3 separate regions of the Homo sapiens genome follow, and all the other regions are linked to region 2. The links come from fine-mapping of genetic effects on gene expression. A gene starts in region 2. Each other region holds a variant in brackets. All regions are shown on one strand. Distances are from middle to middle. Region 1 overlaps AGFG2 (ArfGAP with FG repeats 2). Region 2 holds the start of AGFG2 (ArfGAP with FG repeats 2). Region 3 holds the start of LOC107986829 (a long non-coding RNA gene).

Evidence for each region. PIP is the estimated chance that this variant, and not a neighbour inherited with it, causes the effect.
Region 1: its variant is the best candidate, but not a certain one, in a credible set for the expression of AGFG2 in cerebellum (GTEx, PIP 0.65).
Region 3: its variant is the best candidate, but not a certain one, in a credible set for the expression of AGFG2 in whole blood (INTERVAL, PIP 0.69).

The regions. Positions count from the first base shown.
Region 1 is chr7:100,556,414-100,567,086 of GRCh38, forward strand. It overlaps AGFG2 (ArfGAP with FG repeats 2), which reads left to right. Exons shown (of 12, transcript NM_006076.5): 7 at 5,846-5,966; 8 at 6,181-6,269; 9 at 6,450-6,533; 10 at 7,421-7,549; 11 at 7,805-7,890; 12 at 8,519-10,673. The coding sequence ends at 8,578. Among named protein-coding and RNA genes, the nearest start is that of SAP25, 12 kb to the right of the region's middle. RefSeq lists enhancers at 3,322-3,371, 3,642-3,691. The variant A/G (reference allele first, on the strand shown) is at 5,531.
Region 2 is chr7:100,532,598-100,543,270 of GRCh38, forward strand. It overlaps AGFG2 (ArfGAP with FG repeats 2), which reads left to right and starts at 6,606. Exons shown (of 12, transcript NM_006076.5): 1 at 6,606-6,970. The coding sequence starts at 6,750. RefSeq lists a cis regulatory region at 736-1,080, an enhancer at 5,956-6,457 and silencers at 6,337-6,616, 6,667-6,966, 9,521-9,610.
Region 3 is chr7:100,502,751-100,513,423 of GRCh38, forward strand. It overlaps LOC107986829 (a long non-coding RNA gene), which reads left to right and starts at 7,014. Exons shown (of 4, transcript XR_001745301.2): 1 at 7,014-7,051; 2 at 8,232-8,386. The variant C/T (reference allele first, on the strand shown) is at 5,928.

The DNA of each region.
Region 1 (10,673 bases), 24 kb after region 2:
CTCTACACATTGAGTCTTCATAGCCTTTGGGTGCCTTCTGCCATTGGACATCCTGGACACATGGGAGGGCAGCTGCAGTGCTCGCCGTCAGGCTCAGATGTCTGGGGAAAAGCCAGTGACATACACTCTTTCTTTCTCCCTTCCTCTACCCACCCTTCTCTTCTCCACCCTCACTGCCAGCCAGTCGGATGCTAACTGAAAGTTACAGCTTTGGTAAGTTATTATCCCCACCCCAGAGCCTACCCAAGTGCCTCTGATCATAGAGTTTTGAGGGCTGGAAGGAACCCTTAAAATTTGGCCATTTGACAGATAAGGCAGTTAAGCAATTTCCCTAGTCATGCAGGCCACAGAGCGACCAAGCTGAGACCAGAGCCCAGACTTCTTGACTCATGCTCTGCCCACAGCCTTCTCACTGTGCCACTGTGAGCTGATTAGCTGCTTTTGTTTTTATTTTATCGTTTTGGAGGGCTATAAGAAGAAACATTTTATATTGATAAAAGTTGGCTGGGCGTGGTGGCTCACATCTGTGATGCCAGCACTTTGGGAGGCCCAGGTGGGCAGATCACCTGAGGTCAGGAGTTTGACATAAGCCTGGCCAACATGGTGAAACACCGTCTCTACTCAAAATACAAAAATTAGCTGGGCATGGTGGCAGGCACCTGTAATCCCAGCTACTCAGGGGACTGAGGCAGGAGAATCACTTGAACCTGGGAGACAGAGGCTGCAGCGAGCCGAGATCCTGCCACTGCACTCCAGCCTGAGTGACAGAGTAAGACTCTTGTCTCAAAAAAAAAAAAAAAAGTTAAAATTCACAAAGAGGTTCTCAAAATCATGTACTTAAAATAACTGACCGCATACCCATGAGATTCACGAAGCAAAAACTATTAGACACAATCAGAATTTAATAAGCCAAAGGACTAGGAGACTATAATATGCTTTCCCACATGACTAATAGACAAGTAAGAAATAAACTATAGGAAACAAAATCTCCATAAATTCTAACAAAGACAAATCACATAGGTCACATTTTGGTTTTTGTTGTTGTTTTGTTGTTTGTGTGTTTTTTGAGACAGAGTCTTACTCTGCTGCCCAGGCTGGAGTGCAATGGCGTGATCTCATTCAAGCGATTCTCCTGCCTCAGCCTCCTGAGTAGCAGGATTACAGGCGCATGCCACCATGCCCGGCTAATTTTTGTATTTTTAGTAGAGACGGGGTTTCACCATGTTGGCTAGGCCGGTCTCAATCTCCTGACCTCAAGTGATCCGCCTGCCTTGGCCTCCCAAAGTTCTGGGATTATAGGCATGGGCCACTATGCCTGGCCATAGGTCACATTCTGTATGATAAAAGATGACACAAACAAAGCTTAAAGGTATGAAACAGATGGAGAGAAGATACAACATGGAAAACAGATGGAAATTAGTATCCATAAAGTATTTTTAAAATTCCTGTGAATATGAAAATATAATAATGGACAAGACATATAAGCAGGTAACACCCAGAAAAAAAAATATGAAAATAGGCCAGGCGCGGTGGCTCATGCCTATAATCCCAGCAGTTTGGGAAGCTGAGGCAGGTGGATCACCTGAGGTCAGGAGTTCAAGACCAGCCTTGCCGATATGGTGAAACCCTGTCTCTGCTAAAAATACAAATATTAGCCGGGCATGGTGGCAGGCGCCTGTAATAGCAGCTACTTGGGAGGCTGAGGCAGGAGAATCACTTGAACCCGGGAGGCGGAGGTTGCAGTGAGCAGACATCGTGCTGTTGCGCTCCAGCCTGGGCGACAAGAGCGAGACTTTGTCTCGAAAAACAAAAAAACAAAAGAAAATATCCTCAACCTAATTAATCAGAGAAATGCAAACTAGGATAAGATAGTTTTGCACATCATGTTGGCAAAATTTTTAGATTGATAATGGCCAGTATTATGTGGGGGAAAATGACCTTCTTGTGCGCTGTTGGCAGGAATTGTACATTGGTGCAGGAATATTCGATTTAGTAAGAAAGGTGTGCTCCTAGGAATGGGAGCACTCGAGGAAACAGCCTATATAAAGTTGTTATAGATGCGTCCCTTCTGAAATGCCTTCCCAGTACAATTGATTGCTCTAAAGACAGAGTTTTTTTTGTTTTTGTTTTTGTTTTTTTTTTTTTTTAGACGGAGTCTCACTCTGTCACCCAGGCTGGGGTGTAGTGGCACAATCTCGGCTCACTGCAAACTCCGCCTCTCGGGTTCACGCTATTCTCCTGCCTCAGCCTCCTGAGTAGCTGGGGCCACAGGCACCCGCCACCACACCTGGCTAATTTTTTGTATTTTTAGTAGAGACAGGGTTTCACCGTAAAGACAGTTTTTGGGGCAGACTCAGAGAGAAGGAAGGGCTCAGCTCCACGGATGTCCCAAGCATTAAACCTTTTGTCCACTATCTGGCTGTCTCAAAAAGCAGTCAGTCACTGGGCGCAGTGGCTCATACCTGTAATCCCGGCACTTTGGGAGGCTGAGTGGGGTGCATCATTTGAGGTCAGAAGTTTGAAACCAGCCTGGCCTACATGGTGAAACCCCTCTCTACCAAAATACAAAAATTAGCCAGGCATGGTGGTGCGTGACTGTAGTCCCAGCTACTGGGGAGGCTGAGGCAGGAAGATTGCTTGAACCCGGGAGGCTGAGGTAGCAGTGAGCTGAGATTGCGCCACTGCACTCTGGGTGACAGAGCAAGACTCTGTCTCAAACAAAACAAAAACAGTCAATCTACAGCCAAACCCAGAGCCAAGGAACATTTCCGAGGATCCTGCCATTGTTGGGTGCCTTCATGCATTATGTCCATGAGGAAGGAAAGAGCTTCCCTTTGCAGGAAACTGGCTCAACTTGGCCCAGATCTAATGCTGATAATTGGCAGAACCGCTTCCCACTACACCATGATCATGCAGGTGTTCCCGTGAGTGTGACTTAGCTGTTGGGTGTGAACTGAGAGAGGAGATTTTGAGAGGTGGGTGTCTCTTCTGACAAACCTGCTTTTATTTTTATATTTCTGAGGGGGAGTATGGAGAGAGGGGTTTTCAAAACTGCTTCTCTCCCTCAAACTGTGATAAGGCAGGGTAGAAATCTAGCTGCGTGGTATAAGAAGCGCATGAAGGCCGGGTGTGGTGGCTCATGCCTGTAATCCCATCACTTGGGGAGGCTGAGGTGGGCAGATCACCTGAGCTCAGGAGTTTGAGACCAGCCTGGGCAACATGGCAAAACTTCATTTCTACCAAAAATACAAATAATTAGCTGGCCATAGTGGTGCGTGCCTGTAGTCCCAGCTACTCAGGAGGCTAAGGTGGGAGAATCAGCTGAGCCCTGAAGGTCGAGGCTGCAGTGAGCTGAGATCATGCCACTGCACTCCAGCCTGGGCAATTGGAATGAGACCCTGTCTCAAAAAAAAAAAAAAAAAGTGCATGAAATGAAAAGCAAACAGGAGTGCAGGTGTTTCTTGGGCCACCGCCTCCTTTGTGAGAATGCACCCTCTGTGCAAAGGGCCAACCCTGCCTGGGCTAGGGATGGTTCTGCCCCCTAGTGTCCACAGGGAGGCACAGCATGGCCTGCAGCCTCTCTCCCAGCCTGGTCCTCACTGGGTGAAGCTCCTGGAACATGCAGGACCACAGCAGCACAAAGAGTCAGCCATCCGAGGAAAGGGAGCCGTGCTTGCGTGGAAATTCCACATACTGTACTTGGAGGCAGGCAGGCAGGGAAAGGCCTCGGCTGGGAGAGTCAGTAGAGGATCCAACACCATGCTGCTGGCTTTTTTTTTTTTTTGGAAACAGTCTTGCCCTGTCGCCCAGGCTGGAGTGCAGTGGCTCAATCTTGGCTCACTGCAATCTTCCTCTTCCAGGTTCAAGTGATTCTGGTGCCTCAGCCTCCCGTGTAGTTGGGATTACAGGTATGCACCACCACGCCCAGCTTATTTTTGTGCTTTTAGTAGAGACAGGGTTTTGCCATGTTGGCCAGGCTTGTCTTAAACTCCTGACCTCAAGCGATCTGCTTGCCTCAGCCTCCCAAAGTGCTGGGATTACAGGTGTGAGCCACTGGGCCTGGCCCCACCCAGGTGGCTTTCTAGCCTGTCTTGCATCCTGTGGATTAGAAAGGATTGATGACCAAGTAAGCACAGTGGCATTGTAGCCTTGCCCAGGAGGAAGCTGGCAGCCAGCACTCATTCATCTAGAAAGCCCAGGCATTTAGGAAGGAGGTGGCAAAGGAGAGCACTGTCTTACAAGTGCCGACACTCAGTGAGAGGGAGCGGGGCTTCAGGACCTGGCAGCAGGTAGGCACTGGGCACTTCGTCTTCCCTACTAGATTCTCAGCTTCACCCATTTAGGGCCCGGGTCGCTGTTATTTATGCATAGTGCCTGGCATGTGGAAGATCTCCCTTTTTTTTTTTTTTTTTTTTTGAGACGGAGTCTCACTCTGTCGCCCAGGCTGGAGTGCAGTGATATGATCTCGGCTCACTGCAAACTCCACCTCCCGGGTTCACGCCATTCTCCTGCCTCAGCCTCCTGAGTAGTTGGAACTACAGGCACCCGCCACCATGCCTGGCTAATTTTTTTTTTTTTTGTATTTTTAGTAGAGACGGGGTTTCACCGTGTCAGCCAGGTTGGTCTTGATCTCCTGACCTCGTGATCCGCCCTCCTCGGCCTCCCAAAGTGCTAGGATTACAGGCATGAGCCACCACACCTGGCCAGATCTCCCTTTTTTTTTTTTTTTTGAGACGGAGTTTCGCTCTTATTGCCCAGGCTGGAGTGCAATGGTGTGATCCTAGCTCACTGCAACCTCCACTTCCCGGGTTCAAGTGATTCTCCTGCTTCAGCCTCCGAAGTAGCTGGGATTACAAGCACCTGCCACCATGCCTGGCTAATTTTTGTATTTTTAGTAGAGACAGGGTTTCACCATGTTGGCAAGGGTGGTCTCGAACTCCTGACCTCAAGTAATCTGCTCGCCTTGGCCTCTGAAAGTATTGGGATTACAGGCATGAACTGCCGCGTCCTGTCAATAAAGCCTCTTTCCATCTGGACCCTCCTTTTACATTCACAGCAGCCCAGTGTGGTCGATAGGGTCCCAAGATAGAGACGAGACTTTGATGTGCAGACAGGAGGCTTTCTTAAAATGACAGGGACTCAGCCTCTTCCCCTGAGACAAGATTGCTTGGAATTTCCAGGACTCTTGGCCCTCAGCTGTTTTGTAAGATTTCCATGTGGGCCTTGCCCTCTGTGCTTTTTCTTTTTGGCTCTGAAGAAGAGGCAGGGCAGGAGAACCCCGCAGCGGGGCTGGCCCCATGAACAGTGCCTCCAGGCTCAGGGCACTGGGGCGGCCTCCCGAGAAGCAGCGGCTAAATGGGGAAGGGACAGTGCTGATAGCTGGAGGCTGCACAGGCCAGGAGCCTCCTGAGTGTGATGGGACTTGCTGTCCTCCATGGTGCCTCTGCCTGCCCCTCCCTGCCATGTTCTGATAAATGGAAATGCGGGCTTGAGGAAAGGACAGGCTTTTCCATCTCTTGAGGGAAAAGTG[A/G]GACATGAAAGCCAAACTGGAGCAGGAGGAGGACAGCCTGACCTGGGGACGAGCTGCTTTCCTCTCCGCAGCGCAGCTTTGAGCGCAGGGGACACGGAGAAGGGCTGGGCTGTCACCTTGCCCAGAACTCTTGGTGGGAGACAAGACCTCCTGAACTGGGTGGTCCCTGAGAAAATGGGCTGCCTCAGAGAACCCAGCAGGCACCTGTCATGCCATGACTCCAATCCATCACCACCACCACCTCCATCTGCTCTCCTGCCCCTCCCGCCCTGTCTTACCTCAGCTCTCCCTGTTGTATTTTCCACAACTGCCCAGGGAGCAGCCAGGGGACTCCATTTGGTGCCACTCCCCTGGCACCCGCCAGTCAGCCAAACAGCCTCGCAGACGTGGGCAGCTTCCTGGGACCCGGGGTGCCCGCTGCAGGTGTTCCTAGCAGGTAGGTACAGACAGTGGGCAGTCTGCTGTAGGGCAGGAGAGCCGCCCGAAGCCTGGCCATGTTCCTCCCAGCCCCATCGGCATCTCCTGGCAGTTCTCCCCTCCCCTCCTCTCCCTTACTCACCCTGGAGAGCAGGGTTGGCATCTCCTGGCCCCTTGCTCAGGTTTGATTGGCCCTGGCAGCTGTGTATGACTTCTCTCTCCCCGTGTTGTAGCCTCTTCGGGATGGCTGGCCAGGTCCCCCCGCTCCAGTCTGTCACGATGGGCGGCGGCGGCGGCAGCAGCACAGGGCTGGCCTTTGGAGGTGAGTCCTGCCTGTGGAGACCCAGGGGAGGGGACCTGAGGCCAGGAGGAGTCTAAGGACTCTGGACAGGGTGGGAAGGGGAGAGATTGAGAGGAATGCTCAGGCATCACAGGATGAAGCACGTGAGAAAAAAAGTAACCATCTCTCTCTTTCCTGCCGCTCCCCATTCCACCTGGGCAGCCTTCACTAACCCTTTCACAGCTCCCGCCGCCCAGTCCCCGCTGCCTTCCACCAACCCGTTCCAGCCCAATGGCTTGGCGCCAGGTAAGCCTCCAGCATGGTCCCTTGTCCTGACCATCTGAGACTTCCAAGGCACACATTACCCTGCAGCCTCTCCCTTAACCCTTTGTCTCACGCTGTCAGGAGAAGCAGACAGCCTGGTTCTTCCCCTGCCCACACGGTGCCAGGCCACCTAGCACCCAGGTCACAGAGCCAGATTTTAGAATTAGAAGCACACAGGTGGCTACTTACCGGAGACCGCACTGAAGACTGTTTTAGAGTTGACTGACAGTGGCAGCGATTCTCCTGTCTCCAGCCCTCAGCAGTGTCCCTTTGGGCACCCAGCCCCAGTCCCTTCTGTGTCCCGAAGCTTAAGCCACCTGAAACACTCACGCTGTTCCCTGCTTCCATCAACTCCAGGCCTGTTGTCTTCTCTCACCCTGGCCCTCCCCAGCCTCTGCTGCTCTCCCCTCAGACTCATGCTGGCTGAAGCCTTGAGGCTGGGGAGAGAGGAATAAGAGCAAACACAGAAGAGCTGTGTGGTGGGCCCAGTGCTGAGGGCTTCGTGGCCCTGATTTGATCTTCACAGTAGCCCTATGAGACGGACTGTCCCCATTTTAGAGATGAGAACTGAAGCACAGACAGCGTTAGAAGTTTGTGCTGTTTTTGCAGTTTAGTGGGAGGCTAGCCCAGTCCTGCACCGCGCCCGTGCCTGGAACTACCATGCCCTCCCTGCCACGTACCCCCGGGCAGGGAGAGGGCAGGGTTGTTTGGTGGTGTGAGAAGCAGAAGAGTTCCATGGCTGGGTCCCTCGTTCCTCATGTCAGGAAAAAACTATATCCCATTTTCCCATCTTGGAGGGACTTAGGAAAAACAGTTCTCCAGCCCACCTTCCAGAAGTTCACCTGAGCCTCCCGTCTTTCACTCCATAGGGCCCGGCTTTGGGATGAGCAGTGCTGGGCCTGGCTTCCCCCAGGCAGTGCCACCCACTGGGGCCTTTGCCAGCTCCTTCCCAGCACCGCTGTTCCCCCCGCAGACCCCGCTTGTTCAGCAGCAGAATGGTAAGAGCTGTAGATGGACAAACCCTTTCACCCCATCCCATCTCTGCATAGAGATCAGTTAGTTGTTCCTCCGACCTCATCAGAGCCCATGCAGTGCCCTTTCTGACCAGCAGGGGGGACCAGGGAAGCACCAGACCCGCCCGGGTACTTCCACTGCTCTGTTCCCTTACTCCCCCAGTTTAGGAGGGCCCCCCTTGCTGTCCGCCTGCAGGAAGGCAGGCTGGTGTCAGCTGAGTGACTGCTCTCGCCCCCTAGGCTCTTCCTTCGGGGACTTAGGATCAGCCAAGTTGGGGCAGAGGCCACTGAGCCAGCCAGCTGGGATCTCCACCAACCCCTTCATGGTGAGTGTGCCAGCAGGGGTGCTGTGGTAGGGCTCGTGGGCTTTCCCTCTGGGACAATCCTTCCAGAAGAGGCTGATGTGAGGTGGCCCCTGTGCCCCTTCCTCGTGAAGGTCTGCGTTGTCCAAGCCAGGGCTGAGCTTGGGCCTCAGCTCTTCTGGGCACTGGCATCTCCCATGCTGTTCCAGCCCTGCCCTTGGCTCCCTTCTCCCTCACTTTCCTTTTTTTTTTTTTTTTGAGACAGCCTCACTCTGTCTCCCAGGCCCAATCTCAGCTCACCGCAACCTCTACCTCCTGAGTTCAAGCAATTCTCCTGCCTCAGCCTCCCAAGTAGCAGGGACTACAGGTGTGCACCACCGCACATGGCTAATTTTTGTATTTTTAGTAGAGATAGGGTTTTCCCGTGTTGGCCAGGCTGGTCTTGAACTCCTGACCTCAGGTGATCAGCCCACCTTGGCCTGCCAAAGGGCTGGGATTACAGGCATGAGCTACCGTGCCTGGCCTTTTCTCCCTCACTTTCCCACTGCCCTCAGCATAGCGATTTTTCAGGAGAAAGGACTCCTGGCTGCCTTTCTTCTAAGCTTCCAGTTCCTCTCCCCTAACTGGAAAATGTATTGTTCTTTCTTTCCAGACTGGACCCTCATCAAGCCCATTCGCCTCCAAACCTCCAACCACCAACCCCTTCTTGTAGCACTGTGTTTTTGGGGGGCCTCTTCCCTGCCTTCTGGGGCCCCTCTGCTCCCTAGAGCTCTGGTGACCACTTGCCTGTGGGCATTTCTATGGGCCTTGGGGATGGTGGAGGTGCTAATGCTTTGCTTGGGGCCTACAGGTGAAAGGTGGCTGCCCTCAGATTCCACAAAGCCTCTCTCCCCTCCCTCGTCCCACCCCCACCCAGGCAGGAAGCCCAGGAGGAGTGCGGGCAGGGCCTGACCTGGAGGAGTGATGGTTGAGGGGGAGGGATTTTTTTCAAATGATCAGTCCCCTGTGGAACAGCTCTTCCCTGGGCCTAGCTCGCCAGCGCTGTGCTCCTCATGGACGGGAGCGCAGTGGGGAAGGTAGGGGAAAGATGAGGCACAGTGTTGATGGGGCAGTGACCAGACAGTCCTGAGACCCAGAAGGCCCAGGTGGCCCAAGTGCTCTTGGTGGCCCAGCTTGGCCAGCACACACTTTCCTCCTGCAGCACCCCCTGCTGAAGGGGTCCCCCATTGTTTTGCTTCCCCAGCGCCCAGGATGAGCGGTTTACCATCGAGCTTACCCGGGCCCGGCTCCTGTCAAGCACTTTAGTTAGCTGTTGGTGTCATGTTTGGATACCAGTGTTTTATATTTATACATAGAGAGGATTTTCTAATATAGCCTATTATATATAAATAGATCTATCTATATGCACATACATACATATATACACACACCCAGCCGATCTCCCGCTCCCAGACTGCTCTCGTATGTGGGGAATGGGATGAATCCCCATCTGTGCCTCGACCATCAAAGCCGGAGCTCCAGGGCTGGAGGGGGGGCAGCCATGTGTCCTGACCCCCACCATCCCCAGAGCCTGGGTTTTCCAGGGAAAGGCTTTGTGCAATTGCCTGGTCTTTTTTTTTTTTTTTTTTTCTCCATGTGCCTCCCTGTCCCCAAATCTCTGCACCAAAGCTCATTGCAGGCAATGTTGGAAAAGAACTGCATTTGAACGAAAGAGAAAACGGCGCCTGTGGTTTTGCTTCAGGCCACTTTGAGGGGTTGCAGGTCAGTCAACATGACTGATCCTTGACCTGGCTCTGCTGGGCTGGACTGCCTGGGCCAGTGATAATGCTGCCATTGGCCAGAGACAGGGCAGAGCCCGTCCCTGTCTGAACAAGAGTCCCGCATTAGCAATGAGAAGAAGCGTGGCGGGAGAGGAGCCACCACTGCCGGGGACTGGAGTTTGTTGGATGTGAGGGGAATGCCCACTGGGGCCAGGGTGGGCAAAGGAGGTTGGTGCCAATGTGGTGCTGGAAGTAGACCCCTCCTGGGTCTGGAACATTCTCTGCCCCAGGCTCTTTCCACCTGGGGATGTTGTGACAACATCCAGCTGTGGTGTCTGGGCTATTTGTGTGGTGACAAGACAGACCTGGTCAGGGGGTGGGTGGCAAACACCTCACCTGGCTGGGCAGAGGCCACCTTGCTGTTTGGCCCAAGGCCAGGTGAGGCCCCTCCCTTTCCACCATTGCCCTGGCCCCGTGGCCATTCATTCTTGGGGTTTGTCTGAGTCTTCCACAGAGAGCAGCAAAGAGATATGGGAGTTGGGTGATCAGTGTATTTACTTTGCAGATTTTTCTGGAAATAACCTCTAGCTGCTGCTATTTGCAAGGCTGGGATTGGCCTCCCTGTCTTTTCCAACAATCAGGACCCCATCCTGTCTGTTCCTGTTCTTCTCCCAGCCTCTGCCCTCCTTCTGTCTCCTGGGTGGTCTCCCGCTTCGCTCCTGGCCTTTGCATGTTCCATCTCTTCTCTTTCTCCCCTCTTCGCCACCCTAGATTATCTCTGTGTCCCTCTACCTAATTCTCTTACCAGTTCTTTCCTTTCTGCTTAGAGCCGGAGGGAGGGAAGCTGGAATCTGTTATGGTGTATTAGGGGGAGGAGCCTTTCTGTTATTTCCCCCCAGCTTCCATCACCCTTCCCTTAATGCCAGGAGCGCCGAGGTTTGGAACTGAGGCTAAACCGAAGGGCTTTCTCCTGCTTCTGTCACCCTGTGCTGTCTCCCGGCATCTCCTCACTATCTGGGTCCAGGCCCGGGTCCTCCCTGCAGACTC
Region 2 (10,673 bases):
CCGAAGAATTAGAGGCTGCAATGAGCTATGACGGTGCCACTGCATTGCAGGCTGGGCAACAGAGCAAGACCCTGTGTCAAAAAAAAAAAAAAAAAAAAAGAAAGAAAGAAAGAAAAGAAAAACAAGACAGTTGGCCAGCCATGGGCCCCATTATCCTATTTCCCATGTACCAGAAACAGCTGGCCTTGTAGAACAATGAACTGGTGTACCAAAAACAAATCTAGCCAGTATCCACGAGACCACACTTGTGAGGCTGCAACGCTCCCTCGCTGATAGTGATATGTGATCCTCACAGTGACTGAATTGCAGCGCCCAGTCTTCCTCAGTCAATAGAGAGGTCCAGAAACCAAGGGTTGCAGTTAAGGGGGACAGTGGGGAGTAGCTGTCACTATTATTTTTCTCTCTAAAATTTTTTTGCTGGCCGGGCACGGTGGCTCATGCCTGTAATCCCAGCGCTTTGGGAGGTGGAAGCAGCTGGATCACTTGAGGTCAGGAGTTTGAGACCAGTCTCGCCAACATGGTGAAACCCCGTCTCTACCAAAAATACAAAAATTAGCCAGGCATGGTGGTGGGCGCCTATAATCCCAGCTACTCGGGAGGCTGAGGCAGGAGAATTGCATGAACCCGGGAGGTTTCAGTGAACTGAGATCGCGCCACTGCACTCCAGCCTGGGCAACAAGAGCAAAACTCCGTCTCAAAGAAAAAAAAAAAGATATTTGCTTTCCACGCCCCAAGTCACTCATGCTCTGTGGTTTAACTGCCCAAGGGCAAGGTTCTTGCCAGGGAACCCAATAAGAGTTCTACCTGGTTATTTAGGACTCCTCCTGCCACCAGGGCAAAAGGTCTCCCCATGCTGGCTGTGCTCCCCCTGATTATGAAGGGAAAATGGGAGTGTTGCTCCCCAGTATGACCTGGGTGGAGTAGAGATGGGAGGAGGGTGAGCTCCTCAACGGCCCTCACACCACCACACCCAGTGGCAAAAATCAGCAGAAAACCATCACTATCTACATGAACGTTCTAATTTTTTTCACTCACTATTGGTGGTAGTTAAATTTACCAATTTGCTCAAAGTTGCAAGATGATAAGAAATAACCCTTGGCTCAGCTGGGCACGGTGGCTCACGCCTGTAATTCCAGCACTTTGGGAGGCTGAGGCGGGTGGATCACCTGAGGCCAGGAGTTCGTGACCAGCCTGGCCAACATGGTGAAACCCCGTCTCTACTAAAAATACAAAAAATTAGCCGGGTGTGGTGGTGGGCGCCTGTAATCCCAGCTACTAGGGAGGCTGAGGCAAGAGAATTTCTTGAACCTGGGAGGCGGAGGCTGCAGTGAGTCGAGATCGCACCATTGTACTCAACCTAGGCAACAAGAGTGAAACTCTATCTCAAAAAAAAAAAAAATGCTGAGCACGGTGGCTCACGCCTGTATAGCAGAACTTTGGGAGGCCGAGGTGGGCTGATCATGAGATCAGCAGATCGAGACCATCCTAGCTAACATGGTGAAACCTTGTCTCAACTAAAAGTACAAAAAATTAGCCGGGCATGGTGGCATGCGCCTGTGGTCCCAGCTACTCATGAGGCTGAGGCAGGAGAATCGCTTGAACCCAGGAGGCGGAGGTTGCAGTGAGCCGAGATTGTGCCACCGCACTCCAACCTGGGCAACAGAGTGAGACTCCATCTCAAAAAGAAAAGAAAAGAAAAGAAAAAAGAAATAACCCTTGGCTAATGAGAAGCTAGAGGAGGCATGGGCAGCACTTGGAAATTGTGAACTCTGCAATTCAGAAGGAATGTTTAGTAGGCTGAGATGCCCCATCTGCATATCTGGATGTGACGGTATTGCCTTCTTTTTTTTTGAAGAGGGGGGTGAGGGGGATAGAGTCCCGCTCTGTCACCTGGGCTGGAGCTATGCAATCTTGGCTCACTGCAACCTCTGCCTTCCAGGTTCAAGCAATTCTTGTGCCTCAGCCTCCTGAGTAGCTGGGATTACGGGCATGCGCCATCACACCGAGCTGATTTTTGTATTTTTTTTTTTTTGAGATGGAGTTTTGCTCTTGTTGCCCAAGCTGGAGTGCAATGGTGCGATCTCAGCTCACTGCAACCTCCAACTTCTGGGTTCAGGCGATTCTGCCTCAGCCTCCTGAGTAGCTGGGATTACAGGCATGCGCCACCATGCCCAGCTAATTTTGTGTATTTTTTAGTAGAAACGGGGTTTCACCATGTTAGCCAGGCTGGTCTCAAATTCCTGACCTCAGGTGATCCACCCCCCTCGGCCTCCCAAAGTGCTGGGATTACAGGCATGAGCCACTGCACCCGGTCTGGTGTTGCCTTTTTTTAGGGATGTTGAAATGCATGTGGCTGTGATAACTGGAGAAAAGGAACAAAGTACACATTGGGTGCCTAGGGTTTACTTCTGGGCCTGCTTCTAGTCTCTCTCTACATGCTGTACCTAAGCAACCAGTCCCATGGCTCTAAGCGATGACTCCTAAACCTACATTTCCAGCTCTGGCCTGGCCTGGAAATCCAGTCTATACATATCCACCTGCCTGCTTATCAGCCCACTGGATGCCTCACAAGGATCTCAAATCAACATGTCCAAAACCAAGCTACTGATTTCTGCCTATCAGCACCCCCTAACCCAGCAGTCCCCAACCGTTTTGGCACCACGGACCAGGAAGATAATTTTTCCACTAACCGGCGGGTGGGAGTTGGGGGATGATTTTGGGATGATCTGAGCACATTAAGTTTATTGTGCACTTTTTTTTTTTTAAACGGAGTCTCGCTCTGTCACCAGGCTGGAGTGCAGTGGCACGATCTTGGCTCACTGCAACCTCCACCTCCTGGGTTCAAGCGATTCTCCTGCCTCAGCCTCCCAAGTAGCTGGGATTACAGGCACGTGCCACCATGGCCAGCTAAGTTTTGTATTTTTAGTAGAGACGAGGTTTCACCATGTTGGCCAGGATGGTCTCGATTTCCTGACCTCGTGATCTGCCTACCTCAGCTCCCAAAGTGCTGGGATTAGAGGCGTGAGCCACCGCGCCTGGCCTGTGCACTTTATTTCTATTATTATTACATTGTAATGTATAACAAAATAATTATACAACTCACCATCATGTGGAATTAGTGGGAGCCCTGAGCTTGTTTTCTCGCAACTAGACGGTCCCATCTGGGGGTGATGGGAGACAGTGACAGGTCATCAAGCATTAGATTCTTATAAGGAGTGCATGACCTAGATCCCTTGCATGCGCAGTTTACAATAGGGTTCGTGCTCCTATGAGAATCTAATGCTGTTGCGGATCTGAGAGGAGGCAGAGCTCAGGCGGTAATGGGAGCAATGGGTAGTGGCTGTAAATACAGATGCAGCTTTGCTCATTTGCCCACCACTTACTTCCTGCTGCGTGGCCTGGTTCCTAACAGGCCACAGACAGGTACTGGTCCATGGCCCAGTAGGTTAGGCCCTGCCCTAACCTACTCCTCCTTTAGTCTCCCCTTTTCCTTTCCTTTTCTTTTTCTTTCCTTCTTCTTTCTTTCTTTCTTTTTTTTTTTTTGAGACAGTCTCGCTCTGTCACCCAGGGTGGAGTGCAATGGCGCGATCTCAGCTCACTGCAACCTCCACCTCCCACGTTCAAGCAATTCTCCTGACTCAGCCTTCCAAGTAGCTGGGATTACAGGTGCCTGCCACCATGCCTGGCTAATTTTTGTATTTTTAGTAGATTAAAGGGTTTCACTATGTTGGCCAGGCTTTTCTCGAACTCCTGACCTCGTGATCCGCCTGCCTCGGCCTCCCAAAATGCTGGGATTACAGGCATAAGCCACCACGCCCAGCCCATTTTAATTTAATTTAAACTTAAATAGCCACATATGATTAGTGGCTGCCGTATTGAAGAGAGTAGCTCTAGATTTTTGCTTTGGGCAACTAGGTGGCTCATGGTGCCATTAATTGAAAAATGGGGCCGGGTGCGGTGGCTCACACCTATAATCCCAGCACTTTGAGAGGCCAAAGCGGGCAGATGACCTGAACTCAGGTGTTCGAGACCAGCCTGGCCAACATGCTAAAAATACAAAAAATTAGCTGGGCATGGTGGCATGCACCTGTAGTCCCAGCTACTCGGGAGGCTGAGGTGGGAGGAGCACTCAAGCCCCAGGAAGTGGAGGTTGCAGTGAGCCAAGATTGTGCCACTGCACTCCAGCCTGGGTGACAGAGTAAGACCCTGTCTCAAAAAGAAAAAAACAAGAGAGAGAGAGAGAAAGCAGGCTGCCAGCCACCAGCCTGGACAACATAGTGAGACCCCTTCTCTACAAAAAATCAAAAATTAGCCAGGCATGGTGGTGTGCGCCTGTAGTCTCAGCTACCCTGGAGACTGAGGTGGGAGGATCACTTGAACTGGGGAGGTTGAGGCTGCAGTGAGGTATGATTGTGCCACTGCCCTCCAACCTGGGCAGCAGAGCAAGACCTTGTCTCAAAAAAAAAAAAAAAAACAAAAAAAACAAAACAAAACAAAAAGAGGCCGGGTGCGGTGACTCACGTCTGTAATCCTAGCACTTTGGGAGGCCAAGGTGGGTGGATCATTTGAAGTCAGGACTTCAAGACCAGCCTGGCCAATATGGTGAAACCCCATCTCTACTAAAAATACAAAAATTAGCTGGACATGGTGGCACGCACCTGTAATCCCAACTACTTGGGAGGCTGAGGCAGGAGAATCGCTTGAACCTGGGAGATGGAGGCTGAGGTGGGCGGATCACTTGAGCCCAGGAGGTCCAGACCAGCCTGGGCAATATAGTGAGACCCAATCTCTACAAAAAATTTTTAAAAATTCGCCAGGCATGGTGGTGCACAGCTGTACTCCCAGCTACTTGGAAGGCTGAGGTGGAAGGATCACTTGAGTCCAGAAGGTTGAGGCTGCAGTGAGCCATGATTGTGTCACTGCACTCCAGCCTGGGTGATAAAGCGAGACCCTGTCTCAAAAAAAAAGTAATTGTTTTAAAAATGGTGACCAACCCAATCTGAAGTACCCAACAGGTGGCCAGGCATTGTGGCTCATGCTTGTAATCCCAGCACTTTGGGACGCCAAGGCGGGAGGCTCACTTGAGGCCATGAGTTTGAGACCAGCCTGGCCAACATGGTGAAATCCTGTCTCTACTAAAAATACAAAAATTGGCCGGGCGCGGTGGCTCACGCCTGTAATCCCAGCACTTTGGGAGGCCAAGACCGGCGGATCACGAGGTCAGAAGATCGAGACCATCCTTGCTAACACGGTGAAACCCCGTCTCCACTGAAAATACAAAAAAATTAGCCAGGCGTGGTGGCGGGTGCCTGTAGTCCCAGCTACTCGGGAGGCTGAGGCAGGAGAATGGCGTGAACCCAGAAGGCGAAGCTTGCAGTGAGCCGAGATCGTGCCACTGCACTCCAGCCTGGGCGACAGAGCGAGACTCCATCTCAAATAATAATAATCATAATAATAAAAATACAAAAATTATCTGGGGGTGGTGGTGGCCGCCTGTAATCCCAGCTACTCAGGAGACTGAGGCATGAGAATTGCTTAAACCCAGGAGGCAGAGGTTGCAGTGAGCTGACATCGTGCCACTGCACTCCAGTCTGGGCAACAGAGTGAGACTCCATCTCAAAAAATTAAAATTAAATTAAAAAATTAAAAAAGTACCCAAAAAGTCTTTTCCAAGATGTGATTTTAATTCTCTGCGTAGGATTTATTACTAACTGGTGATTCTTTAATTTGTGTATTGTTTGCTTCCCCCTACTAGAAACTAAGCTCTATAAGAATATTTTGTTTGATTGCTTCGCTGCTGTATTCTATTCCCAGTGTCTAGAACGTGCCTGAAACCTAGCAGACACTCAGTGTTTGTTAAATGAATAATCGAATAATAGTCCACCTACTAGGAGGGTTAAAGGCAGGGTTTCTAAAGTTGGAAGACCCAGAGTGGAATCCTGGGCCACGCACTCGTGTGATCTGCCGCAAGTTGTTGAACCTAAGGGTGTAAAATGGGGATTCCACCTCTGGGATAGGCGGAGCGAATGAAATGACATTTATAAAGCACTCCCTTCGCTCTGTGGCTCAGGAATTAGAGCACTGGTCTAGTAAAGCACTCTTGCTCCCTCTCCCTCTCTCCCTTAAGCGCTCTCTTCTTTCCCCCTCCTGCTCAGCCCCTCACATGGCCACTTCTCTTCGGCTTTGCATGACACTCTACACAGTCTAGAGTAAGCCTTTGAAATTTGCCGGGAATTAACGTCATCAGTCGGGAGGACGACAGCTACGCACGCGCGGGGCACCTCCTCTGTCTCGCGCGCTAACTTTGCAGCCCCGCCAGCCAATCAAAATTAGCGTCGGAGCCCGAGTGCCGAGGACTCACCAATCGGAACTAGGAGGCGGGCCACGGTGGAGGCAGCGGCGAGAGGGGGCGGGGACAAGGAGAGGGCACGCACGGTTCTCGCTGCTGGGGTCTCTGCCGGCCAATAGGAGAGGCCTGAGGCCTGAAGGCGGTGGGGCGGGGCATTGGCGGCTCCAGCAACCGGAGGCCGTCCCAGGGAGGGCCAATCGGAGTAAGGAGGTGGGAGAAACCTAGCCAATCAGTGTGCAGGACGGGCAAGGAGGGTGGTGGACGGCGAAGTCTCCTGCGGATGCCGCCCGCTCCCGAGCTTCTGTCAGGGGAGCCGGGCGTGCGGAGGCGGCTGAGGAGGCGGGAAGGCGGCAGTGGTTGAAGGGGTGATTGCTGACTAGCGGGGAGGGAGTGGGCAGCGATGGTGATGGCGGCGAAGAAGGGCCCGGGCCCGGGCGGCGGGGTCAGCGGGGGCAAGGCGGAGGCGGAGGCGGCCTCGGAGGTGTGGTGCCGTCGGGTGCGGGAGCTGGGTGGCTGCAGCCAGGCCGGGAACCGCCACTGCTTCGAGTGCGCCCAGCGCGGGGTCACCTACGTGGATATCACCGTGGGCAGCTTCGTGTGCACCACCTGCTCCGGCCTCCTGTGAGTGACCGGGAGGGAGTGGCCGAGGTCGGCGTGGGGGGACCCGGGGGCGGGGTGGGGAGGCCGGGGCTCCGGGGCGCGAGGGAAGGGGGCCGAGGTGAGGGGCGGAGGGGAGGTCAGGGAACGCGCCGGCTGTGGGGACGGGGTCGTCTGCTGCAGCGGTGTGGTGGGGAGGGGAAAGGGCAGGGGAGAGGAAGCAAGGCCGGAGTCGCTCTGCGGAGAGAAGGGTACGGGTGCAGAAAGACGCCCGGAGAGGGACCGAGAAACTCCCCGAGGGGGTCGAGGCAAACTGCAAGTGGGGAGGGAGAAAGTGCGGAGGATGGAAGGGAACTCGGAGTGGGATGGGGTGTCGGGACTTAAAGGGCCAGAAAATGACATGCACCTTTAGAGGGAACTTCATGCAGGTGGAAAGCAAAAAGGAAAAAGGTGGGGAAAGCCGGCCTGGAGATGGACGGGCACCTTTCTTCCTTCGGGCTTGTGTCCCTGCTGGAGTGTGAGATGCAGAAGCCAGCTGAAACTTGGTTGAAATTCCTATGATTAGAGTACAGGATTAAAAAAAAAAAAAAAAGCGAATTAACCCCGATTGACAGCCTAGAGATAGTGGCTGGAAGGGAGCCATGGTCCAGAGTTCAGGTGTAGATACTAATCTTAGCAGGGCTTTGAAATGTTACCCAGAAGGTAAAACTCTTACGAAATCTAAGAGATGAGAGCCAATGGGTTACCCTGGTAGAGAGCTTAGCTTTTTCAAACGTTTGCACGTCTAGGTGAGCCATCCTGAAGGTTAATCATTTACACCTTTAAGATCCCTGTTGCCATGACTGGATCCTGGTGGTAGCATCCAGGAAACTCTAGATTTTGGGGGGGCTTTGGTGCATCATCTGAGTGCTACTCTTGGCATTGGTACTGTTCGGTCATGCCAGAGTGAATTTACAGCCACAATTCTAGCCTAGATTTCTGGTTATATAGTAAAGCCCCCTCCACTCCCCTCTGCACTCCTCCTACTCCCAAATTAAGATATTATTTGGTTAGATGCATGATTAACATCTGATATCAGGCCTGGATCTCTGTTTTTTAATAAGTTTGTCAAGGGATTTATTTTGACAATTTTTTAGTCTTATTTTAAGACACTGTTGTTTTTGTTTTGTTTTTTAAAAAATGCTTTCCAGCCAGGCGCTGTGGCTCACGCCTGTAATCCTAGCACTTTGGGAGGCCGAGGCAGGCAGATCATGAGGTCAAGAGATCGAGACCATCCTGGCCAACATGGTGAAACCCCATCTCTACTAAAAATACAAAAATTACCTGGGTGTGGTGGCGCGCACCTGTACTCCCAGCTACTTGGGAGGCTGAGGCAGGAGAATCACTTGAACCCGGGAGGTGGAGGTTGCAGTGAGCTGAGATTGCGCCACTGCACTTCAGCCTGGCGACAGAGCAAGACACTGTCTCAAAAAAAAAAAAAAAAAAAAAAGCTTTCCCTGTCTTGATACCTTTAGGAGCCAGGGAGCGAGCACTATTGTTCTTGCAAGACAGATGGGAGAACAGAAGCAAAGAGAGGTTTCGTAACTTATCCAGTGCCATATGGGCATTGCGGTTTCCAACATTTGTTGTTTGATATTAGTGATGATCATGGCAGACCAGCAATGAGGATTTAGTTTTCTCAAGATACCGTTTGGAATTATTTACTTCGTTTTAACCTCCTTTGCTAAACTTCTCTCTGGGTTCTGATCAACCTCACTTGTGGGTTGTAAGGATGAACTTGACTTTGGTCTAAGTAAAAGTCATCGTGGCTCTTGGGATAATGATTGAGAACCCAAACAGTAATGTGTCATAAACTGAGATGGACTGAAATGAAGCAAGAGGATAGAGACTCGAGAGTGGGTGAAGAACTCTGGGGAGAGATTGAGCAACGTTTAGGAGTATGTATAGGGGTCGGGCTCGGTGGCTCAGTATGTATAGGAGGCCAAGGTGAGCAGATCACTTGAGGTCAGGAGTTTCGAGACCAGCCTGGCCAACATGGCGAAATCTCATCTCTTACTAAAAATACAAAAATTAGCCAGGCATGGTGGCAGGTGCCTGTAATCCCAGCTACTTAGGAGGCTGAGGCAAGAGAATTGCTTGAACCCAAGAGGTGGAGGTTGCAATGAGCCGAGATCGCACCACTGCACTCTCCAGTCTGGGTCGCAGAGCGAGACTCTGTCTCACAAAAAAAAAAAAAAAAGGAGTATGTATAGGGTAAAGTAGAAAGAGAAAGAGCTGATTCCTGAAGATCCTGCTATGAGAAGCAGAAGGATGAAACTGATGGATAAAATTGAGTAACTGGGAAGTGCTGACATTGTTATCATTATTTTGTAGATCTTTGTTAAAGTGTCCCACAGATAACATTTCCCTTATAATACCCCTCAATCAGGACACAAAGAAAGCTAAGGTATCTGGGACACGTTAAAAACCTGGTTTCTTTTTTCTTTTTTTGAGATGGAGTCTCACTCTGTTGCTTAGGCTGGAGTGCAATGGCGCGATCTCGGCTCATTGCAACCCCTGCCTCCTGGGTTTAAGCAATTCTCTTGCCTCAGCCTCCTGAGTAGCTGAGACTACAGGCACGCGCTACCACATCTGGCTAATGTTTGTATTTTTAGTAGAGACGGGGTTTTGCCATGTTGGTCAGGCTGGTCTCGAACTCCTGATCTCAAGTGATCCGCCCGCCTCGCCTCCCAAAGTGCTGGGATTACAGGCGTGAGCCACGGCACCCAGCCTGCTTAGCTTTTTGGTAAAGCATTATGAGACTAAACCAGGGAGTGATTCTCACAGAGGAGGATTTAGAGAGCATATTTTGGTGTTTGGGAAATGAGAAGCTAGACCAACCCTTTGTTAGTAGGAAATGAGAGTGAAATGAAAGATCAAGAGGTTAGGCCAGTAAATGAAGCTGAATTGAAGGTATGTTGAGAGTGAGAAATTTCAGGAGAAACTCTGCAAGAAAGCTGGAGTTTCCCTATAATTAGCATGACAAGGGCAAGGCATATAATCCTTGTAAAGGGGTCTTAACACAGTATTACCTGTGTCCCTTTGATATGCTGTGGGAAGGAGTGGGAGCTGGCAGGTGGGCTGTAAGGCAGAATGTGAGGCAGGGGATGCTTATTTCTGGAGGCATGGCTCCATGGTGGCACGGAGACCAATTAGCATCTTAAATCCCCATGATTGATTACCTGTAGATTAGGGTTTGGTGTTGGTGGGAAGTGAAAATTGTGGTCGGCTGACAGCCTGCATGTTTATTCATTCGGTCAGTCAACACGAACTTATTCAGTGCCTATCAAGCGCCAGACACTGTTTTAGGTACTGGAGATACAGTAGTGATAAGTTCCCATTTTCACGGAGCTGACATCCTAGTGGAAGCCATGGACTATAAAGAAATCGTTCTGTATTGCTAAAAGCTATGAAGTAAAATGAAGCTCTGTGGGTTAGAGTGATACCAAACTGAGGTATGATGCAAAGAGAAGAAATATTATTATTAATTTTTTTTTTTGAGATGGAGTCTCGCTCTGTCGCCCAGGCTGGAGTGCAGTGGTCCGATCTTGGCTCACTGCAACCTCCACCTCCTGGTTTCAAGCGATTCTCCTGCCTCAGCCTCCCCAGGTAGCTGGGATTACATGTGCACACCACCACGCCCAGCTAATTTTTGTATTTTTAGTAGAGACGGGGTTTCACCATGTTG
Region 3 (10,673 bases), 30 kb before region 2:
GGGAGGCTGAGACAGGAGAATCACTTGAACCTGGGAGGCGGAGGTTGTGGTGAGCTGAGATCACACCAGTGCACTGCAGCCTGGGCTGACAGACTCTGTCTCAAAAAAAAAAAAAAATCCCTGCACGTACCTGGTTGTTTCCTCAAAGTGCCACCTGCGGTTTCCAGGTACCGTGTGTTGGAGTGTCTCAGTGCTAGCTGTTCAGATCCAGGTGTCCCTCATGCATGTCCCTGTAGAGTAGTGGTCCACTCTGCGGGGGTCCAGCTTCCCTTGCTCCTCTCTCTCTACCACCTCCACGTTGCGTCCAGGATGGGGTGAGGAGCATGTTGGCTGGGACTCGTCCAGGCCACACACTGACCTCTGCCACCACCCTGGGGGCAGTCTTTGCCACCATGAAAAATGGCTGGGAGCCAGGAGCCACAGGGTGGAAGCACCAGAGATGGTGTCACCACCATTTAAAAAAATTTCCACTGACCCGCCGGGCGCGGTGGCTCATGCCTGTAATCTCAGCACTTTAGGAGGCCAAGGGGGGCAGATCATGAGGTCAGGAGTTTCAGACCAGCTTGGCCAACATGGCAAAACCCCAACTCTACTAAATACAAAAAATTAGCTGGGCATGCTGGCACGCTCCTGTAATCCCAGCTACTTGGAAGGCTGAGGCAGGAGAATTGCTTGAACCCGGGAGGTGGAGGTTGCAGTGAACTGAGATTACGCCACTGCACTCCAGCCTAGGCAACAGGGCGAAACTCCATCTCAGAAAAAAAAAAAAAATTTTCCACTGACCAAGTGGTGACCTCATGCTGATGTTTTTTGATGTTCCTGCCTTAAAGCCCAGGAATGGGTGTGAGAGCAACATGTACACATTCCAGAAATTTCAGAGTAATGAGGGGGAAACCTGAAAAGATTAGAACTAGAGGGGAAATTTTAAAGATGCGCACTATTTATTTCACTGCCCATGTAGATCTGAAGTTATTTTGCTCGCTAGTAACATCAAATGTAGCCTTGTATTTGGGTCGTAAAGCTGTCATGGTTGGTCTACTTACAGATATGAAAATCTAAAAAAATGGAGAACACTTCCCCCCATTTAGATTGGTGGCTAGGTGAAGCAAAAAGGCTTACAGTGGCTGGGTGCCGTGGCTCATGCCTATAGTGCCAGCACTTTAGGGTGTTGAGGCAGATGGATCACTTGAGGCCAGGAGTTCGAGACTGGCTCGGGCAACATAGAGAGACCCCCGTCTCTGCAAAAAATAAAAAATAATAATTAGCCAGCCGTGGTGGCACATGCCTGTAGTCCCAGCTACTCAGGAGGCTGAGGTGGGAGGATCGCTTGAGCCCAGGATTTCAAGGCTGCAGTAAGCTATGATCACACCACTGCACTCCACCTTGGGCAACAGAGCGAGACACCCTGTCTCTAAAAACAAAAACAAAAATCTATCTGCAGACACCCTGTCTCTAAAAACAAAAACAAAAATCTATCTGCAATTGAACTCATTACTTCCCCAACCAGCCCTCATGTCTTGGACTGACCATCTCAGCCAGTGTCATCACATTCAGTCTCCCAAGGCAGAAACTTTTTTTTTTTTTTTTTGAGATGGAGTCTTGCTCTGTCACCCAGGCTGGAATACAGTGGTGCAATCTTGGCTCACTGCAACCTCCGCCTCCCAGGTTGAAGTGATTCTCCTGCCTCAGCCTTCCGAGTAGCTGGGATTACATGCGCGCGCCACCATGCCTGGCTAATTTTTGTATTTTTAGTGGAGACGGGGTTTCGTCATGTTGTACAGGCTGGTCTGGAACTTCTGACCTCAGATAATCCTTCCGCCTTGGCCTCCCAAAGTGCTGGGATTACAGGTGTGAGCCACTGTGCCCGGCCTTAAGGCAGAAATCTCTATGTGGAAGTACATGGTTTATTTCTCTCTGACACACACCCATTATTAATTAAGATGTCAGTTTACCTCTTTCAAAACAGACCCAGGCTGAGCATGGTTGCTCACACCTGTAATCCCAGCACTTAGGGAGGCCAAGAGGGGCAGATCACTTGAGTTCAGGAGTTTGAGACCAGCCTGGTCAACATGGCGAAACCTCATCTCTACTAAAAACACAAAAATTAGCTGGGCGTGGTGGTGGGCGCCTTTAGTCCCAGCTACTTGGGGAGGCTGAGGCAGGAGAATCGCTTGAACCTAGGAGGCGGAGATTGCAGTGAGCCAAGATCACGCCACTGCGCTCCAGCTGAGGAGACAGAGCGAGACTCCGTCTCAAAGAAAAAACAAACAAACAAAAAACCCAGACCCAAAGAACAGTGGTTTAACCTAAATGGGGGATTACATCTTGCTCATATAAGGGTCCAGACATTAGCAATCCATAACAGATACGGAAGCTGCAGTTCATCAGGAGCCAGGCTCTTTCTAACTGGTTGCTCTGCCGTTCCTAGGGTTCTGCTTTTGTTCCACAAAGTCTGAGGGGCTTTACTATCAGGTCCACTTTGTACTCAGCAGGATGGTGCTTGCCTGGGGTACAATAGACATGACAATTAACCCTCAAAATACCTAAGAGGTAGTGGTTTTATTAGGTTGAACTATATGAAATTGCCATTTTGGGGTCAAATATAATAGAATATTGGCAATTTTATGTCATTCAACCCAGTGGTATCTCTGAAGATAAAAGCTCTGACACACAGAGAGGTCAAGTAACCTGCCCAAAGTCACACAGCAAGTGAATGGCAGAGAGGGGCTTCAAATTCAGAGCCTCCCTGGAAGCTGGGCCCGAGGAAGATTCTTCAGTAGATAAGGCTTGGTTCCTGTCCCCCATGCACTTATAACCTACTTGCAGGGCAACATATGAACACTGGAACTGTAATCACAGTTCAAAAGAGAAACAAGTTTGATACAGCTACATAAGAAACTCATGAGGCCTGGCGTGGCGGCTCACGCCTGTAATCCCAACACTTTGGGAGGCCGAGGCAGGTGAATCACTTGAGCCCAGGAGTTCAAGACCAGCCTGGGCAACATGGCAAAACCCCATCTCTACTAAAAATACAAAAATTAGGCCAGGCCCGGTGGCTCACACCTGTAATCCCAGCACTTTGGGAGGTCAAGGTGAGTGGATCACGAGATCAGGAGATCGAGACCATCCTGGCTAGCACATGAAACCCTGTCTCTACCAAAAATACAAAAAAAAAAAAAAAAAAAAAAAATTAGCCGGGCATGGTGGCAGGCGCCTGTAGTCCTAGCTACTCGGGAGGCTGAGGCAGGAAAATGGCATGAACCCACTTGCAGTGAGCCGAGATCACGCCACTGCACTCCAGCCTGGGCAACAGAGCGAGACTCCATCTCAAAAAAAAAAAAAAAGAAAAACAAAAATTAGCCAGGTGCGGTGGCACATACCTATATATATATATTAAAAAGGAGGTCCCTGCCAATCCAATTAGCTGGTAGAACAAGACTTTTTTTTTTTTTTGGAGGTAGGGTCTCACTCTGTCACCCAGGCTGGAGTGCAGTGGCATGATCAAGTCTCACTGAAACTTTTGCCTCCTGGGCTCAAGCAATCCTTCACCCCTGTCTTCTGAGAAGCTGGGACTACAGGCACACACCACCATGCCTGGCTAATATGTTTTGTACTTTGTAGAGTCGAGGTTTCACCATGTTGCCCAGGTTGGTCTTGAACTCCTGAGCTAAAGTGATCCGCCCACCTCCACCTCCCAAAGTGCTGGGATTATAGGTTTGAGCACTCGTGTCCAGCCAGTGTTACAACTTTTATTGAAGCTTCAGTGCACAGCCGCAGCAAAGGTACGGCTCCTTGCAGAGCAGGGATGACCCATAGGCACTGTGTCCAGAATAGCAGCTGAGAGGCAGACCTAAACTCATTTATGCCCATTTTTAATTATATGCAAATTAAGGGGTGGCTTATGCAGAAATGTCTAGGATGAGGGTGGTAACTTCCAGGTCGGTAGGTGGTTGCCATGGAAAGGGGAGATAACTTCTGGGTGTTGTCATGGCAACGGTAAACTGACATGGCACTCTGGAAGGGATGTCTTTATGGAAAGCTGCTTCTGTCCCAACCCATTTTTAGTTGGTCCTCAATTTGGTCTGGTGTCCGTGCCCTGCCTCTGGAGTTGAGTCTTGCCTCCTACCTCAACAATCATTTTTTCTTTTCTTTTCCTTTCCTTTCCTTTTCTTTCTTTTCTTTTTTTTTTTTTCTTTTTTTTGTAAGACAGGGTCTCACTCTGTTGCCCAAGCTGGAGTGCGGTGGTGTGATCATGGCTCACTGCAACCTCAGCCTGCTGGGTTCAGGAGATCCTCCCACCTCAGCCTCCCAAGTAGCTGGGACTACATCGCGCACCACCACACCTGGCTAATTTTTGTACTTTTGATAGAGACAGGGTTTTGCCATGTTGTCCAGGCTGGGATAATTCTTTAATTCTGTGCTATTTAACAAAAGTGTGAGGTGCTATCTATGTAGACTTGGGTCTTCATCACGCTTGGTGGTGTGTGCCTGAGTGAGCGTACATACTTCCATAGCCCATGGATTTCTTTCTTTTTTCTTTTTTTGCGATGGAGTCTCGCTGTGTCGCCCAAGCTGCGGTGCAGTGACCCAATCTCAGCTCACTGCAACCTCCACCTCCCGGGTTCAAGCAATTATCCTGCCTCAGCCTCTGGAGTAGCTGGGATTACAGGCATGTGCCACTACGCCTACTTTTTGTATTTTTAGTAGAGACGGAGTTTCTCCATGTTAGCGAGGCTGGTCTCGAACTCCTGACCTCAGGTGATCCACCGCCTCGGCCTCCTAAAGTGCTGGGATTACAGGCGTGAGCCACCACGCCCAGCCACCTGTGGATTTCTTTATGTCTCTCCACCTTCTCACTTTGAGTTTATATGAGGCTGGGTTATGTCTTTCTGTGTTTTCCTGGGTCTTGGCATTTGTTTCTATCTCTTCCCCTCTCTTTCCTTCTGTCCTTTGTTTCTCCATCACACTGTCTCCTGACATCGATCTCTTCCTGTATCTTTGCTCTATAATTGCCCCATATAAATCCTAAGGATATATTTTATTGTTCATTGCACATATTAAATAGTTTGATGTGCCCTGCCCCTTAATTTAAAATGCAAAGAACAGGCTGGGTGTGGTGGCTCACGCCTGTAATCCCAGCACTTTGGGAGGGTGAATCACCTGAGGTGAAGGTAGGCGAATCACCTGAGGTTGGGAGTTCGAGACTAGCCTGACCAACATGGAGAAACCCCATCTCTACTAAAAATACAAAATTATCTGGGCGTGGTGGCACATGGCTGTAATCCCAGCTACTCGGGAAGCTGAGGCAGGAGAATTGCTTGAAGCCAGGAGGCAGAGGTTGTGGTGAGCTGAGCTCGCGCCCCTGCACTCCAGCCTGGGCAACAAGAGGGAAACTCTGTTTCAAAATAATAATAATAATAATAATAATAATAAATAAAATAAAATACAAAGAACAACATGTTCCATCGCTCCACCTAAATCTCCTATTTTATTGCTCCTTCTCTCTGACCTTTTTTTAGTTTGTTTTTATTTTGTCAAGTTATACACATACATAATTTTAAGAGTCAAATTGTACTAAAAGGTTAACAATGGTGAAAAGCAATCCCTGCTCTTTCTACTCTTGACCTGCTTCTTGGATTCAACCAACTTCTTCAGTTGTTTCTTCCAGTATATGCCTCTTGGTTTCTTTTCTGTTTTTTTTTTTTTTTTCTTTAGACAGAGTCTTGCTCTGTCACCTAGGCTGGAGTGCAGTGGCATGATCTTGGCTCACTGCAACTTCCGCCTCCTGGGTTCAAGCGATTCTCGTGCCTCAGCCTCCTGAGTAGCTGGGACTACAGGCGCGTGCCACCACACACGGCTAATTTTTGTATTTTCTGTAGAGATGGGGTTTCACCATGTTGGCCAGGCTACCCTTGAACTCCTGACCG[C/T]AGGTGATCCTCCTGCCTCGGCCTCCCAAAGTGCTGAGATTACAGGCATGAGCCCAGCTCCAGTTTCTAAATAACTTGCTTGTATAGCTATTCCTTGATTTTTCTATTTTAGATACGATCTATGATTTCTTAAAACAGGAAATGAGGATTTAACTTTTACACCCCCACACAAAACTCTTTCCCTTCCCCTATCCTCTCAATACAATTATATCATAAAATTTAGAATTAAGTATTTATAATATATATATTTTTTGAGACAGGGTCTCAGTCTCACTCTGTCTCCCAGGCTGGAGTGCAGTGGTGCAGTCATAGCTCACTTCAGCCTCCAATTCCTGGACTCAAGCCATCCTCCTGCCTCGGCCTCCAGAGTAGCTGGGACTAGAGGCATGTGCCAGTGTGGGCAGCTAATTTTTAAAATTTTTTTGTAGAGACAGGGGTCTCGTATGTTGCCCAAACTGGTCTTGAACTCCTGGTTTCAAGTGATTCTCATGCCTCAGCCTCCTAAAGTGCTGGGATTACAGGCATGAGCCACCACTCCAAGCCCCTAAGTGTCCGTTCTTTGCATTCCCTTGGCACTCCGTGTACACCTGCCACTGTTACATCAGTTGTTGTCTGCTGCATAACAAACTATCTCAGAGCGTAGTGGCTTAAAACAATTTTCATGTATTCTCTCGCAGTTCTGTGGATCAGGAATTCAGGGCATGACGGGATTGGCTTGGCTCTGCTCCACGACGTGTGGGGCCTCAGCTGGAAGACCGGAAGACTGGAGGGCTGACGTTACCTGCAGGCTTCATGGAGGCTGGAGGCTTGGTTTCCCAGATGGCTCACTCACACGGCAGGCAAGTTGGTGCTGGTTATTGGCAGCCGGCCTCAGTTCCTCCTGAGCAGCTCTATAGGTTGCGTGGATGTCCTCGTGATGCGGCAGCTGGCTTGCCCCCGGAGTGGGGGCTCTGAGAGAGAGAGAGCAAGGCAGAAGCACAATGTCTTTTATGACCTAGCCCCAGAAATCACACACTGTCATTTCCATCACATTTAGTTTATTAAAAGCAAGTCCCAGCCAGGTGTGGTGGCTCATGCCTGTAATCCCAGCACTTTGGGAGGCCGAGGCAGGCGGATCACTTGAGGTTAGCAGTTTGAGACCAGCCTGACCAACATAGAAAAACCCCATCTCTACTAAAAATACAAAATTAGCCAGGCAACAGGGTGTGGTGGCTCACACCTGTAATCCCAACACTTTGGGAGGCCAAGGCAGGTGGATCACAAGGTCAGGAGTTCAAGACCAGCCTGGCCAAGATGGTGAAAACCTGTCTGTATTAAAAATACAAAAATTAGCCGGGTATGGTGGTGGGTGCCTGTAATCCCAGCTACTCTGGAGGCTGAGGCAGGAGAATCGCTAGAACCCGGGAGGCAGAGGTTGCAGTGAGCCGAGATCACTCTACTGCCCTCTGGCCTGGGCAACAGAGTGAGACTCCATCTCAAAAAAAAAAATTAGCCAGGCGTAGTGGCGCATGCCTGTAATCCCAGCTACTCTAGAGGCTAAGGCAGGAGAATCACTTGAACCCAGGAGGTGGAGGTTGCAGTGAGCCAAGATCACGCCACTGCACTCCAGCCTGGGCAACAGAGCGAGACTCTGTCTCCAAAAAAAAAAAAAAATTATTTTCACTTTTTCTGGCCAGGAACCTTGCTAGATGCGATAGGTCCAGAAATTAAAAACTGTCCTGCTCTTGAGAAAACAGCAGGTTAGGCCACGTGTGGTGGCTCATGCCTGAAATTCTAGTGCTTTCGGAGGCCGAGGTGGGAAGATTGCTTGAGGCAAGGAGTTCGAGATCAGCCTGGGTAACAGAGTGAGACTTTGTGTCTACCAAAAGTAAAAAAAATTAGCCAGGCATGGTGATGCAAACTTGTAGTCTCAGCTATTTGGGAGGCTGAGATGGGAGGATCACTTGAACCCAGGAGTTGGAGGCTGCAGTGAACTACGATCACACCACTGCACTCCAGGCTGGGTGACAGAATAAGACCCAGTCTCTAAAAACAAAACAAAACAAAAAAAAAAAAAAAAGAAAGAGAAGAAAGAAAAGAAATGAGTGTAGAAAGGGATCCTTTAAGATGAAATCGATGCCTCCTCATGGAGTTCTAAGCCCTCAGAAGTGGAAGTCAACTGGAGTGTGCAATTTTCTATCTTTCAACTAACCCAACAGTTTCTACCTCACCCTCCTGCCTTCCTAGGACTCTGTGCACACACCCACCAGAGTGTTATCACATTGCAAGACAGAACCCAATTGTCTCCTTTATCTCCTCTACCAGACTTTGTGCTCCATCAGTTGAAGAGTAGGATGAAGAAAAAAAAAAAAGGTTACATGAAGATGATGGAATTATAATCAGGCCTTGAAGAACGGAGACAATTCCAGCCATTGTTGTAGATGTGGAGGCTGAAGGACATTCCAATTTGAAGGAACAGAGTAAGTAAAGGAGGGTGGGGCCAGATCAAAGAAGACATGCAGGCCAGGCGCAGTGGCTCCTGTCTGTAATCCCAGCACTTTGGGAGGCCAAGGCAGGCGGGCGGATCACTTGAGGTTAGCAGTTTGAGACCAGCCTGGGCAACATGGAGAAACCCTGTCTCTACTAAAAATACAAAAATTAGCCGGGTGTGGTGGCTCACACCTGTAGTCCCAGCACTTTGGGAGGCTGAGGCGTGTGGATCACAAGGTCAGGAGATCGAGACCCTCCTGGCCAAAATGGTGAAACCCCGTCTCTACTAAAAATACAAAAATTAGCTGGGTGCAGTGGCAGGCGCCTGTAATCCCAGCTACTAAGGAGGCTGAGGCAGGAGAATCCCTTGAACAGGGGAGTCGCAGGTTGCATTGAGCTGAGATTGCGCCACTGCACTCCAGCCTCAGATAGAGCGAGACTTTGTCTCAAAAAATAAGTAAATAGATAAATAAATAAGTAAATAAATAAATAAATAAATGGGTTGTTGAATTTGAGATCTTTCTTCTTTTTCACTGTAGGCATTTACAACTATAAATATCCTTCAAAATATTGCTTTAGCTAAATCCTTTAAGTTTTTGGTATATCATTCAGTTTCATTTATCTCCAAGTAGTTTCTAATTTCTCTTGTGATTTCTTTTTCTTTCTTTTTTTTTTTTTGGAGATGGAGTCTCACTCTGTCACCCACCCAGGCTGGAGTGCAGTGGCACGATCCCTGCTCGCTGCAACGTCTGCCTCCTGGGTTAGAGCGATTCTCCTGTCTCACCCTCCCAAGTAGCTGGGGTTACAGGCATGCACCACCACGCCCAGCTAATTTTGTATATTCAGTAGAGACGGGGTTTCACCATGTTAGCCAGGCTGATTTTGAACTCCTGACCTCAGGTGATCCACCCACCTTGGTCTCCCAAAGTGCTGGGATTACAAACGTGAGCCACCATGTCCAGCCGTGATTTCTTCTTTGACCTATGAGTTATTTAGGACTGCGTTTAATTTCCACATAGTTTTAAATTTCTCAAATTTCTATTATTGATTTATTTTATATTTCATTTTATTTTATTCTGAGACAGAGTCTCGCTCTGTCACCCAGGCTGGAGTGCTGTGGCACAATCTCAGTTCACTGAGGTTCACTGCAACCTCTGCCTCCCAGGTTCAAGCGATTCTTGTGCCTCAGCCTCCCAAGTAGTTGGGATTACAGGCGTATGCCACCTTACCTGGCTAATTTTTTGTATTTTTAGTAGAGACAAGGTTTCATCACTTTGGCCAGGCTAGCCTTGAACTCCTGGCCTCAAGTGATCCTCCTGCCTCGGTCTCCCAAAATTTTGTGATTACAGGTGTGAGCCACTGTGCCTGGGCTCTATTATTGATTTCTAATTTTGTTTTATTATGGTTAGAGAATGTACTGTGTATGATTTCAATCTTTTTAAATATATTGAGACTTATTTTATGGCCTAACATATAGTTCATTCTGGAGAGTGTCCTTGTGGACTTGAGAAGAATATAGATTATGCAGTTGGCGGGTTGAATATTTTATAGATACCTGTTAGGTCTGATCAGTTTATACTGTTGTTCAAGTCTTCTATTTCCTTGTTGATCTTCTGCCTAATGACTTCTCCATTATTTAAATGGGGTATGGAAGTCTCCTATTATTATTACTGACTTGGGCTCTGACATTCAGAGTCTAAAAATGATTAGCCAGCCTAATGAAATCCCCACTGCTTAGGAGGGTAACAGTGAGAGAGAAAAGGATGCCATGCAGGAGGCTATGCGGGCCATGAAAGATGAAAGAGACAGTGGCCAGTTCCCAGCCAACCTCAAATTCTTAGATTTTCAGTTCCAGCCCACCTATGTCCTTATGGTATGTCCAAGCCCTTTTTTCCCCCTAAAATTTGCAGTTAGTTCTTGTTTCTTGCAAATGAAATACCAAACTACTCTAACAAGCACAGAATTCTATTCCAGGAGCGGGGTTGCAAGCAACAGAATCTCCAAAGAGGCATGGAATCTTCATAGTAACACAGGAGAGAGAGTCAGAGATGATTTCCATGTCCCTGAATGGGAGGTTAGAAGTCCATGGATTGATAAAACAGTTCGTAAAGTCTTAGTATTCAGATACTATGTCCTTTGAAAGTAAAGTTTTGGGCTGGGCGCAGTGGCTCACGCCTGTAATCCCAGCACTTTGGGAAATAAGGACAGGCGTGATGGCTCAGGCCTGTAATCCCAGCACTTAGGGAGGCTGAGTGGTGAGGATTGCTTGAGGCCAGG